Regions from separate parts of the Homo sapiens genome. Here region 2 is linked to region 1. Evidence: fine-mapped expression QTL. Tissue or cell type: esophagus muscle. Region 1 holds a variant in brackets; the other region holds the start of a gene. All regions are shown on one strand. Distances are between the middles of the regions.

The links. PIP is the estimated chance that this variant, and not a neighbour inherited with it, causes the effect.
Region 2: it holds the start of MCC, and the variant in region 1 is fine-mapped to the expression of MCC in esophagus muscle (GTEx, PIP 0.94).

Annotation. Positions count from the first base shown.
Region 1 is chr5:113,049,268-113,051,767 of GRCh38, reverse strand. MCC (MCC regulator of Wnt signaling pathway) reads left to right here. Exons shown (of 19, transcript NM_001085377.2): 16 at 2,469-2,500. Among named protein-coding and RNA genes, the nearest start is that of DCP2, 74 kb to the right of the region's middle. The variant T/C (reference allele first, on the strand shown) is at 1,248.
Region 2 is chr5:113,487,429-113,489,928 of GRCh38, reverse strand. It overlaps MCC (MCC regulator of Wnt signaling pathway), which reads left to right and starts at 1,476. Exons shown (of 19, transcript NM_001085377.2): 1 at 1,476-1,684. The coding sequence starts at 1,515. RefSeq lists an enhancer at 1,283-1,577.

The sequences.
Region 1 (2,500 bases):
CCATTCTTCTTTTTGTTGTTGTTTGTTTGTTTGTTTGTTGTTTTGAAACAGGGTCTCACTGTGTTACCCAGGCTGGAGTGCAGTGACACAGTCATGGCTCACTATAGCCTCGCCCTTGGGCTGGAAGTGATCCTCCTGCCTCAGCCTCCCGAGTAGCCGGGACTACAGGAATGCACTGCCCTACCCAGCTGACTTTTTAAGTTTATTTTTTTGTAGAAACAGGGTCTCACTTTGTTGCCCAGGCCAGTCTCAAACTCCTGGGCTCAAGTCATCCACCCAGGTCAACCTCCCAAAGTGCTGGGATTACAGATGTGAGGCACCAGGCCTGGCCTTCTCTTCCTTTTTGAACATCTTATCCCTTCATTATGACTCCTGTATCACTTTGTTTTAAATCTTTATTTTCTAGTTTTGCACATTGTTATTTCTGCTTCTTGTAAATGCTGACTCTTACTTTTTGCATCCGCTCATTCTTCGTCAGTGCTGATTCATTCTCATTTCCTCGGTGGTGGGGGTAGGGGGAGAGAATGCAAGCACCAGCTCATCCTCTGTGGAAACTGTCTTCCGTGGGGCCCTGAGGATCCTGGGTTGCAGATGTCCCTACAGAGTGGTTCTATGTTTAGATCTGTTGGGACTCATCAGTTTCTGAGGTTTAGGACTAGTTGTTATTAAGTTCTTGGCTCTGGATTCCTGTACCACACCTACACATGACACAAGCTTGAGGTTTAATTCCTGGAAAGAGATTTTTCTTTCTTTTCCCACACAGAGCCTGAGAGATGACAAGTTTACTTGTCACATCTCCAGAAAGGAAGTTTCCTAGTGTCTTATGGGCAGCCTGATGAGAATCCTGCTCCCGTAGGGGTCTGAGCTGTGGCTCTCTGCCTCAGAGGCCACGGCCCTGGCCTTGGGTAATGTTAAGCCCCCGGGTGGAGGGCCTGAGGACAGTCTGACGCCTTGCTGGCCAGCACCTGCCCTCCTTGCCGTTCTCTCTGGCAGAGTTCCCTCTTCATTTCTGGCACCCATAGGTTTCTCTTTCCCTCTTTCAAGCCTGCACTTATATGTTTGTTCTGGAAGCGACCATCACATTAGCTCAGTATGCAGTGTTGCCAGAACCTTCAGAATCCTGCTTCCAATGGCAAAAGATCCGAAGGCTCTGGGCGTGGCACACCTTTCATTCTGGCTTTTATGTCTGATATTTAGGGTAAAGAAGGTTGGCATGTTCTGAGTAGTTTACTGAGCATATTGACTAA[T/C]GTCCCTTTCGAGGGGTGTCCTCTACCCATTTCCCCACATTTGAGAGTGAAAACATCTACCCCCTAGTCCAACTTACCCAGGAGAGTGCACCAGGCCTGTGGTTTATTACCTCAGAAGGGTGACTTCGGGGGTTGTGAGAATCTGAACTAACCTCAGGTGAGTCCATCTCACGGTGGGCTGGGAAGGCTGGACCTGGTGGCCATGGGCTGGTGGAGTTACTCTCCAGCAGAAGTGCGGGGACAAGAGTCATGCGTGGGCTCACCTTGAAAGGGAGGGAGGCAGTATAGCTCTGAACCAGACAGCTTGGCTGCAATCTGTGGCTCCACAGCTTACCCAGTAGCCATAAGCAGGGGGATTTCCTTCTGTGTGCCTCAGTTTCCCATCTGTCAATGGAGATAGTTGCAATACCTAACCCAGGTTGGGAAGATGAAATGAGCCACGTCATGTGAACACTTAGCACAGTGCCACGTGCTCAGTAAAGGCTACTGGCTGTCATTGTTACTGGCTCCTGGTCCCAGGATGGCACTGTCCTATTTTGGATTCACTTCGTATTCTCCACTCATCGCTCTCATTTGAGTTCTTAGGATACTTTTAGAAGTTGTCTGATGAGCAGTCACCTGTGAAGGATGCTGTTTCTATTGATTTCATTTGGGCCCTGAGAAGTAGGCAAGAGCTGGAGGTTGATGCTGCTGCAGGCATTCGCCGCATGCCTGGCCCAGCTACAGGGCAACAGAGGTGCCGTGGGTGTGATTAAACATGTGGTTGGTGCCATGGAAACCAAAATGGGAATTGGAAGGGGCTTGGCCAGAAGAGGCCTTCCATGGATAGGTGACTTTACAGCCTCTGGCAGGTGCAGCTCAGCCTCTGCAGACCAGAGAATGGGTTTCCATCAAGGCCCATGTGCCTGAGTGGGGGCTCTATTTGTTAGAAAGGTTTTCCCTATATTGAACCACAATCTTGCCTGTAACTTCTACCCTTCTGTCTCAGGTCTAGTCCATAGACTGACAAAGTGCATGGCCTTGTCCATACGTCATTCCTTTAGAAGTGTGGTGACAGGTGCCACGTCTCCTCCCACTCATCCTACTGCCAACTTCAAAGTGAGAACTCTACCATGGGCCTGTGGGTCATAGCCGGGGACCCCCCACCCACCCACTTGGCAGCAGCCAGGCCTGCTCTCAGATAGGGCATGCCTCATGTGCTCTGTGCTCCTTTGTCTGTAGGAGGAGATGGCCGAGTTGAAGGCCCAGCTCTA
Region 2 (2,500 bases), 440 kb before region 1:
AGAGCTAGCATCATCTCTCACTCATGTCTGGCACCTAGTCTGGGAAGATTCTAAGATCCAGGGCTAGAACAGCTGTAGCTCTTTGGTCATCTCCTTTTTTCTTTACATGGTCTTTCTGCATGGTTTCTCCAGCTTCAGGGTAGCCAAACTTCTTTTCAGGCAGCTCAAGGCTTCAAAGGTAAGTGTCCCAAGGGAGAGAGCCAAGTGCAATCTGCATTGCCTTTTCTAACCTAGTCTCAGAAGTCAAGGCAGTCACAAGTCCAATCCAGGTTTAGGGGAAGCAACAGACTCCACCTCTTGATGAGGGGTGCACCAAAGAATCTGTGGACATATTTTAAAACCACCAGAGAACTTCACACGCCTCTCTGGCAGAAAATCCAGGACAGAATAATGAGTCATTCACGAAACCACAAATTGCTTCACTGTGGTTTCCCTTTGGCTATGGGGGAATAGTGCAGTGTTTAAAGGCTCCTGCTCTGGAGTTAGGCTGCCCGGGCTTGCCTCTGCCCTAACACTTACTAAACCTGGAACCTTGAGCAGGTCTTGGTACCTCAGTTTTCTTACCTGTAAATTGGGAACAATGAGAGCTAACAGTTGTTGAGCACTTACTAGGTGTCAGACATTGTCCTAACTGCATTATGTCTGCTCTCCTTTTATATGTAAGATAACTCTATGAGGTACTTATCTATTAATACTTCCTAAGTCGTAGGATTGATAATAAAAGAGGCATCTTCCAGGTCTGTAGTGTGGATCAAATGAGACCATCTATTATGTTCGCTCTTGGCATTATTAAAGCTGTTGGGGGAAATTCTAGTGATGCCTGGCCAGTAGAGTGAGCCGTTTCCAGAAATTGACCCAACGTACACAATGCCACACAGCGTGCAGACTCTTCCCAGTACAGAGTGGGAGCCAAGATGAGGGCTGCGAGGGCCAGGTTTCTTGACAGGTGTCAAAATTTCATAAAAAGGCCAGTCATTCCGGTTCTCATTGGTGGCTATGGGTACAGAACCCGGAACAATCCTGGAGAGTGGGATTACAAGCACCGTTTTGAGTTTGCAGAAGGAGAGTGTTTATATAGCTTCTCTGGAAAAGGAAGCCATGACTCCGGGCGGTCGGAGAAGGTCTGCCGGGAGTACACCTGCCCTCTGCCTGAAGCGTCCCCAAGTGTCCCGGGCCCGCGTCGTTGCCGGATGCACAATGCTGACACCCTTCCCGGGGGCTTCCAGTGTATTCTGCCTCCTCTTGTGTTCCCGTTGCCACCCTTAGCTCCCTGACTCTTCCAGCCACCTTCCCCTCCTCCCTCTTCCCTGAGGTGCCTCCTCGGGCGATTCCAGAGCGCCCATCTTCCCAGTCCGGGCAAAACCCGGAGAGGTGGAATCCCTCGCCCGGAGCGCCCCGGCGGCCACTGGGCATGCTCCGTTGTCAGGCAAGTTCGGGGCTGCAGGCAGCTTGCGCGCCGCGCGGATTCCAGCTGCGGTCGCGCGTACTCCTCCTCCCAAGTAGGGAGCGGGCGCATGATGGCGGCCGCGGCGGCAGCGGCTGCGGGGAGCTCCAGCAGCGGCGGCGGCGGCGGCGGCAGCGGCAGCAGCAGCAGCAGCAGCGACACGTCCAGCACCGGCGAGGAGGAGAGGATGCGGCGCCTCTTCCAGACGTGCGACGGCGACGGGGACGGATACATCAGCAGGTACGCGGGGAGGTACGAGGAAACCGACAGGAGCGAGATCAGTCCCTCCGCGCGCCCTTGACCCCTGCTCTGCCCCCTCGCCCCAACTTGCGGCAAGTTGCTCAGAAGCTCGCGGGAAAAGTTGGCCGCGACTCCGAGAGCGCGTAGCCGGCTCGGCCACGAAGGCCGAGGGGACTGCTCTGTTCGCCTTGCGGGGGTGCCAGTTGGTCCAACTTTTCCCAGCGCTGTCTTTGTCTAGGCGTTGGGAGACATCTCCTTAGGATGCGCACTCTTCCGGGGGCTTGGAGTGTTCTTCCCTGTGGGAAAAGGAGTTCTGGCCGCTTGTCCCAGGTAGGAGGGGCTGCCCCACAGCCTCGGGGTCCTGGGCATCAAGATGCCGCAGCACGGGGCAGCGATCTGCCCGGCGGCTTGGTGGACACCCCAGGGCCGCACCGGGAGGAGATGAGCTAAGCGACAGCCTCGGACAGGGAAATAACCTGTGAAGAAACTTTCTTGTGCCGCAGAACCCATGAATTCCAAACTTCAGAGCCCAAAGAATGGGTATCGTTTGCCACCCAGTATTGATTTAAACGCAGTAGCCTGAGAGGAACGAAGCGCTCAGGAGCAAACTAGGGCTAGACCCGACTCCTACCCGGCTCTGTGCGCTGACCAGGTGAGCTTCGGCGTGGCTCCGGGCGCCTCCGCGCCTCCACTCACAAACAAACTTTGGGGTGTTTGCTTCGGATCCCCCGCACTTCCTACAGAGGCGGTATTTAAGCTTCCTGCCTCCCGGCTTGGCCAAATAATTACTTCTGCCCAAATTTGTGTCACTTAGAC